Linked DNA regions of Homo sapiens: all the other regions are linked to region 1. Evidence: fine-mapped expression QTL. A gene starts in region 1. Each other region holds a variant in brackets. All regions are shown on one strand. Distances are between the middles of the regions.

What was found.
Region 2: its variant is fine-mapped to the expression of ZBTB11-AS1 in uterus (GTEx, PIP above 0.99).
Region 3: its variant is fine-mapped to the expression of ZBTB11-AS1 in whole blood (TOPMed, PIP above 0.99).

The regions. Positions count from the first base shown.
Region 1 is chr3:101,675,338-101,678,102 of GRCh38, reverse strand. It overlaps ZBTB11-AS1 (ZBTB11 antisense RNA 1), which reads right to left and starts at 1,673. Exons shown (of 1, transcript NR_024407.1): 1 at 1-1,673. It overlaps ZBTB11 (zinc finger and BTB domain containing 11), which reads left to right and starts at 971. Exons shown (of 11, transcript NM_014415.4): 1 at 971-1,498. The coding sequence starts at 1,189. LOC124906262 (endogenous retrovirus group K member 5 Gag polyprotein) reads right to left here and starts at 1,658. Exons shown (of 3, transcript XM_047449415.1): 1 at 1-1,658. RefSeq lists an enhancer at 1,279-1,833 and a silencer at 1,550-1,919.
Region 2 is chr3:101,116,099-101,118,863 of GRCh38, reverse strand. No RefSeq gene overlaps it. Among named protein-coding and RNA genes, the nearest start is that of ABI3BP, 120 kb to the right of the region's middle. The variant A/C (reference allele first, on the strand shown) is at 1,141.
Region 3 is chr3:101,714,990-101,717,754 of GRCh38, reverse strand. No RefSeq gene overlaps it. Among named protein-coding and RNA genes, the nearest start is that of CEP97, 8.2 kb to the left of the region's middle. The variant C/T (reference allele first, on the strand shown) is at 1,193.

The sequences.
Region 1 (2,765 bases):
CTACTTCTAGGAGCGTCAAAGGGCCTCACCCAGAGACTACAGACCCTCCGGTGGAGAAGTGTACTAGGCCGTGTCTGCAGCTGGAGCCCTCGGCCTGAAATGTTCTGGCTTTAGCAAAGCGGCGACAGTGTCCAACCCCAGTCCCCGAGGAGGGATGTCAGCCCTGGGCCCCTGTGAGCGCTGCAGATTCGTCCCAGGAAAGGGTGACCGGGGTCGCTGCTCCGGGATTACCAGCTAAATACCTGTATTAGCATCCTCAGCACGCACTGGGAGACGCAGCTCAAGTCCGCTCCCCTTCTTGCACCCTCATATATATTTGGTGCAAAATGGAGAACCTTTTCCCCTACGTTTGTGTAAAAATATATGTAAATAAAGCCTTAAAATAGTGTTACCGACCCCCTTTTCCACTCGCAATAACATTGACTATAAATGCTGATAATTCCAAAAGAATCTCGACTCTTCCTTGAGTAGTCTGGAGCTAGCAGGTGCAAGTTTAGAAACAATAACTCATCACTGAGGGAGGCACTGAAAATTTTATAACTGTTAACTGGAATCTAAATTTCCATGTAAATGGGCTGTCTCTGGTCCCGTGTCAAGAGACTAATATTTTTCCAGAAGCCTGAAAATATGCTTTTATGATGTTGGGAGTCTCAAACGTAAAAACGGACTCCTAACCCTCTGGATGTTTCGGCTGAACTCTCAACTGTCCACCAGCTCCCCCTACACGTGGCTCCTTAGAAAGCGTGGAAAAGGGAAAAATGAAAAGAGAAACTGCCAGGACTTAAGATGTCTGCTTAAAGACTCCCTCGAACTGCAGTGAAGGGTCCTACCCGCTTCCAAAATGTCCACCCGCATTCCTGACGTCACTGGATCGGCTCCATCAAGCCAGAAAACGAGAGTGCGCTCCAATCAGGGCTCAGTCCCCGCCCTTGCCTTGCGTCACTTCCGGTGGTGCAGCAGCCATTTTGTCAGTCGCCAGCGGATCCCGCGCGCTGGAGAAGTGCAGTTCCCCCTGGTTACCAACTCGCCCGCTTTTCCTTCGGACTAAGGGAGCCGTCGAAGAGCGCTCGCCAAAGGCGCAGCCGTTTCTCCCTACGGTGCCGCCGCTCCTCCTGCAGCCGCCCGTAGGTAGCGGGCCGTTTTCCTCACCTGTCCCTGACAGGCGCCCTCAGGGAGCCGCGGTCCGCGATGTCAAGCGAGGAAAGCTACCGGGCCATCCTGCGTTACCTGACGAACGAGCGCGAGCCGTATGCGCCGGGCACCGAGGGCAATGTCAAGCGTAAAATCCGAAAAGCTGCCGCCTGCTACGTGGTGCGCGGCGGGACTCTGTATTACCAGCGGCGGCAGCGGCACCGCAAGACCTTCGCGGAGCTGGAGGTGGTGCTGCAGCCGGAGCGACGCCGGGACCTCATCGAGGCGGCGCACCTGGGTCCCGGCGGCACTCACCACACCCGGCATCAGACCTGGCACTACTTGTCCAAGACGTACTGGTGGCGAGGTGAGACCTAGCCCGCGGCGAGGGGGCGGGCTGGCGACTCGTTGCCTGGGCAAGGCTCGCTGGCGAGGCCTATGCGTACCCACGAGTCGGAGGGTCTCGGACGCCTCTGGGCGGCGGAGCTGCTGCCAGGCGGAGCCGAGAGGGTGGGGGACGCGAAAGGAGCCGCACTTCCCACAGGAAGGAGGCCGGCGAAGCTGGGGGCGGGCCCTGGCCCTGGGTGGGACCAAGGGGGCTTCCCCGGAGGCCGGGCCAGCCGCGGGGAGGGGCCGGACGCCTGGGCTGCGCCAGGTCCGCCTCCTTGGGCGGCCCCTTGAGGCTGTAGGCCCCGGCCCTCTGGAGGTGGCGTGTGGCTCGCGGCAGTGGAGGCTGCGGGGTGCACGTTTTCGACTGTGCTGACGTTTGGAAGGGGGGACGAGTCACCCGAAGCCGGGTCTCCCGTTTCTTTAGTGCTGCGCTTGGGTTTTGGCGAGCGAGTATGAGCTGCTCTGGACACATTCGCTAGTGTTCCTCAAATTTTGCCGCTGCTGCGTAAATAAGGAATAATACAATTATTTGCAGAAGTGATAAGGAGTGATTGAGAAATCGCCTTGAGCGTTTTTTTTTAAGAACAAGAAGTAAATGTAAAAGATATCAGTTACTGTTTTTGTTGTTTGGTTTTGCGGGGGCGGGGTGTTTGAGTAGACACGGGTCTCGCCTCGTTCCCCAAGCTGGTCTCCATCTGGCCTCAAGCCATCCTCCCGCCTCGGCCTCCCAAAGTGTTGGGATTTCAGGCATGAGCCACGGCGCCCAGCTTGATATTCGTAACTCTGAATGTTTTAATAATCTTTCCCCTAATGATGTGAAAAACGCGTTTGGGAACTGTGTAGCATTGTATATACGCAGAAAAGGTACGATTACTGTGACTTTTTGATTGTCAAAAAATACAGCTCTGAAGTTACTTGACTCCTTGGGAACCAGTTGTAAGGGAGGATAGCAAGTGTCCTTGGCTTCTTAACCATCTTCACTCTCCACAGTTAATGAATATTCAAACTGTCAGAATTAGTTAATAGTTTATAGTCCCATTTAAGAAATTTTGTTAGGAACAGTGCTGTCACTCTCCAATATGGCTACAGAAAAGTTATTTCATTCAAATCTTGGTTACTTCGTCTGTGAATAACGAAATTACTGAATAGTTTCTAAAGTTCTTTTCGGTTTATAAACATCATCAAGTTTATTCGTTTACGAACTATTGGATAATCAAATTCTTCCATTTATTTTCCACTTTAAA
Region 2 (2,765 bases), 560 kb after region 1:
CTTATGAAGTAGTTTCTATTAATTGAAAGTTAGTTTCTATTAACTGGAATCAGTTCATGGAATTTTAGGTCAAGAGAATGCACAAAACTCCAAATCTCTTGCTAGGTATTACTGAGATAACCTTGGTAGAAGGCAAATCAATTTGCTATCCTATTTGAATAGTATTAAAAGACTGTTGGTCTTAATACATCTCAGATATTTCCAACAGTGTTATCTTTCTCAGTTCATTAGCTCTTTGGTAAAGGATGATGTGATACTGGGAACATGGAATTCCACAGACTTGAAGTAAAATTAGTCTGTGTAACTTGGGATATTTCATTTAACCTCTCCAAGCCTCAGATTCTTTATCAGTAAAACTAGGATAAATGTTTCATATAGGGTTACTAAGGGATTAAAATTTGCACACAAAAAGTGTCTGATACATAACTCATATATATACTCATAGAACATTTATTGAATGTCTTTATCGTTTAACTGTATGCCATGTTTTCTCTCATTTAATTGTCAAAACCCCAGGAAGAATAATTGTCTCCATTTTACTCAGACTTAGAGAAGACAGTTAGGCACTTGCCAAGTGCTTTCACTGTTGGAGATAGGCAAAATGACGCTCACTAGGAAGAACTCTAGCATGAGAAATACAGGCATAGTCACTGGGGTAAATAACAACAGTGCTGACAGCTGGATTCTGGTTGCCTCTTATCTGTCTCCAAGCTGATGCACCATGTGGCTTACTTAGGCCCTCAGTCACAGAGTGAGCATGAAAATGGAAGGAATCTGCAGAGCATATTAATGAATGAACAAATAGGAGTGCCCCTTACAGGAAGTAAGTAGATGATAGATGAAAATTTCTTTACACGACATGCAATAAGGCATGAGCAAGTACAGACTGACAAACAAGTCATAATATACAAGAGAACATATTTATAACTAGTAATTAAGGCATCCTAAAGTATTATACAGAATAACCTTCACAGATACTGTACCTTCCTACCAATTTCCAGAGAAGGAATATATGGCCTGACCAGGAAGAGAAACATCATGTTAACAGGCACTAGGGAACCTTGGCTGTGCCCTGGTATCCTTGTAGATGAGGTCTCGACATTGCCCCTAAAACAGCTGTAAGACTATGTGGAAGAAGGG[A/C]GAATTCTGGTCAAGTAAGACCCATCACTTGTTTGCCAGTAAAATGGGGAAGTGCTCATATTTGTGGAGGCTTCTTGTCATATGCTTCATGGTGGCTGAGGTTCCCCTTGACAGGACAACGTTAGGGATGTTTAGCAGTTCAGATCAAAATCTAACATTACCACAAGTCGATTTTTTATTGTGGTAAAACATAGCATGAAACTTACCATTACAACTTAAGTGTATAGTTTAGTGGCATTGAATACATTAATATTGTTGTGCAACTATTACCATCATCCATCAACAGAACGTTTTCACCATCCTTTTGATAGCATTTTACCCACAGTAGAGCTTCTTTCAAAATTGGAGTCAATCCTCTCAAAATTGCTGCTTTACCCCCTAAATGTATGTAATATTTTAAATCCTTTGTTGTCATTTCAACAATGTTCGTAGCATCTTCATCAGGAGTAGATTCTATCTCAAGAAAGCACTTTCTTTGCTCAAATATAAAAAACAACTTCTATATCAGCACTTGCTGCTTCACCTTGCACTTTTATGTTATGGAGAAAGCTTCTTTCCTCAAACCTCATGAACCAACCTCTGCTATGTTCCATCTTTTCTGTTGCAGCTTCCTCACCTCTCTGCCTTCATAGAATTGAATAGTTAGGGCCTTGGTCTGGATTCAGCTTTGGCTTAAGGAAATGTTGTGGCTGGTTTTATCTTCTATCTAGACCACAAAATCTTTCTCTGTATCATCAGTAAGATCGTTTTATTTTTTTTAATCATATATGTGTTCTCTGGAGTAGCACTTTTATTTTTTTCTGTTTTTTTAATACTCAATACTATATTTTTGAGATTTATCATATTTATTTTTCAAATCCAATTTATTCATATTAACTGTTGCACAGAATCCTATTTGTATTGCATATATAATCTATAGTACATTTATTTACCTGCTGATGAACAATTACGTTGTTTACCATTTTTTGCCATTACAAACAATGTTGCATTAAATATCCTTTTAAGTTTTCTTGTATACATGCATGATTCCCTTAGGAGCAGAATTGCTGGGTAATAGGTAAGAGAATTTCAACCATAAAGTATTATCAAATTAATCTCCAGATGATTATAAATTGGTATTATTTATAAAAATACTGTGTGTGTGTGTGTGTGTGTACACAGATACAAATAAAGCCTACCTGTAGAAGCCACAGTATGTAGAAATTGTTACTTTGTAATAAAACAACAGAGACAAAATGGAAATAGAAGGCCAAGATCTATGTCAATGCTCTTGAAGAGTACAAGTTTTAATTGGGGTGAGCTCTAAGACAAGCTCAAAACAGTTGGTTAAAACAATCAGACTCAACCACTGGTATTGACAGAGCCATATGTAAGTAGGGTAGGAATGCATATTAATTAATGGTGATTCTTAGAATTCCCTTCTTCAGGCTGGGCATGGGCAGAGACATCATCTCAAAGACTCAAAAAAGTCCCCTTGAGTCCCTCTCATCAGGCTCCAAAGCTTCCTCTTACATTGTCCATCAAATCTACTCTTCATACAAGTTCTGATTAAAGCATTTTGATTGTTTAAAATAATAACTTTTATTTTAACTGTTTATTTTAACAACTGTTGATTGTTTAAAATA
Region 3 (2,765 bases), 40 kb before region 1:
ACTCAATAAAAGGTACTGATTTTTTGTTGTTGTTGTCGTTGAGACAGAGTTTTGGTCTTGTTGCCCAGGCTGGGGTGCAATGGCGTGATCTTGGCTCACCACAACCTCTGCCTCCCAGGTTCAAACGATTCTCCTGCCTCCGCCTCGCGAGTAGCTGGGATTACAGGCATACGACAATACGCCCGACTAATTTTGTATTTTCAGTAGAGATGGGCTTTCACCACGTTGGTCAGGCTGGTCTTGAACTCCCAACCTCAGGTGATCCTCCCGCCTCGGCCTCCCAAAGTGCTGGGATTACAGGCATGAGCCACCGCGCCCGGCAAAAGGTACTTACTGATTTTTAAATTGTTGCTAAGGTGGCACTGTCCAAGAGAAATAGGTGTACCTCATATGAAATTTTAAGTTAGCTAATAGCCATATTTTAAAAAGACAAAATATATTTTATTTATTCATATTAGCATTTCAACATATAAACAACATAAAAAATAATGAGATATTTTGCATTCTTTTAATTTTTTTTTTTTTTTTTTTTTGTGATGGAGTTTCACTCTTGTTGTCCAGGCTAGAGTACAATGGCGCAATCTCGGCTCACTGCAGCCTCTGTCCCCACCCCCCAGGTTCAAGCCATTCTCTTGCCTCAGCCTCCCGAGTAGCTGGGATTACAGGCTGTGCGCCACCACACCCAGCTAATTTTTGTATTTTTAGTAGAGATGGGGTTTCAACATGTTGGCCAGGCTGGTCTCTAACTCCTGACCTCAAGTTATCCGCCCGCCTTAGCCTCCCAAAGTGCTGGGATAACAGGCATGAGTCACTGCCCCCAGCCCCTAAATTTTCAATTGAGAATATAATGAATCATTTTTATAAAAGTTCTACTGCCTTTCAGAAAAACTTCAAAAGAGATGAAATAGAAACGTCAAGGATTTCTTTACTACTCTTTTAAACAAAACACAACTTCTTCTGGTTTATTTACTTTATTATTTATTTAGTTTACCTAAATAACCTGAAAAATATTCTTGAAATTAATTTATACTTCCACCTCTTTTTTTCCTCATATTTAGCTGATACACAGGGGGGAAAATAAAATGAATATTTTAGAATCTCATCTTGAGTTGGTTAATTCTTCATTTTTTCTAGCCCTGACATTGCATTCTTTTTTCTTTTTTTTTTTTTTGAGACAGTCTCCCTCTGTCGC[C/T]CAGGCTGGAGTGCAGTGGCGCAATCTCGGCTCACTGCAACCTCCGCTTCCCAGGCTCAAGCGATCCTCCTTTCAGCCTCCAAAGTAGCTGGGACTACAGGTGTGAGCCACCACTCCCAGCCATTTTTTTTTTTTTTTGTATTTTCAGTAGAAATGGGGCTTCACCATGTTGGCCAGGCTGGTCTCCAATTCCTAGCCTCAAGTGATCTGCTCGCCTCGGCCTCCCAAGGTGCTAGCATTACAGGCGTGAGCCACCGTGCCCAGCTGACATTGCATTCTATTTAAGATTCCTGCTTTAAGCATGTTCTGACTAGGCAGGATGCGGTGGCCCATGCCTATAATTCTAGCACTTTGGGAGGCCGAGGCAGGGGATCGCTTAAGCCCAGGAATTCAAGACCAGCCTGGGCAATATAGAGAGATCCTGTCTCTGCAAAAATTAAAATGAATTAGCCGAGTATGGTGGCACAAGCCTGTGGGCCCAGCTACTGGGGAGGCTGTGGTGGGAGGATTGCTCAGGCCAGAGTTTGAGGCTGCAATGAGCTGTGATCATGCCATTGCAGTTCAGCCTTGGTGACGGAGTGAGATCCTGTCTCAAAATTTAAAAAATGTTGTCCATCCTCCTGAAATCTCATTGGTTTCAGGGATGATAGGTTGGTAGTTTACCTCTAGAGGGGTAGTGGAAGCAATTATTCACTGGTCCCCCAACCTGTGTTGTTTTTCTCTCCCTCAAAGAGCTTCCTATTTGTCTAGCACTAATTCCTGACAAGAAGCCTGGATAGAACCTCATTATAACATGGCAAAGTAATTAACCCTCTGTCTAAATTCTGTGGAATTTTGTTGTTGAAATTCTTTGACTTTGGTTTTAAATTTCTTTTTGGTTTACTGACCACTTCTGAAAGACCATAATCTACAAAAATTGTGGCCCATCTTCTAGACAAGTGCACAGAGAACACACATAAAACTGTCAGTATATAACCTTTTCTACTGTTTGGTTTTTACTATTGTATAACACCTACTCAAAAGCATAATTCTTTCTGACTTCAGAGCAATTGACTTTTTATTTTATTATGGTTTCTGACTGTATGAGCAATATATGGTTTTTTTAACATTCAGGAAAACAAAATAATATGTAAAATACAAAGTGAAAGTTTCGATAATCTCACCCCTTAGAGATGCATTGTCTAATATGGTAGCTAATATCCACTTTTGGCTACTGAGCATTGGAAATGTGGCTAGTCCTAAATGAGATGTGCTATAAGTGTAAAATACACACTGGATTTCAAAGACTTACTTAAAAATAAGAATGCAAGCCCGGGCAACATGGCAAAACTCCATCTGTAGTAAAAATACAAAAACTAGCTGGGCATGGTGGTGTGTGCCTGTAGCCCCAGCCACTCATGAGGCAGGTGGGAGGATTGCTTAAGCCCAGAAGTTGAGGCTGCAGTGAGCTGAGATCGGGCCACTGCACTCCAGCCTGGGCAACAGAGCAAGACCCTCCCTCAATAAAATAAAATAAAATCACAGCTATTTGGGAGGCTGAGACAGGAGAATCGCTTGAACCCGGCACAGGGTG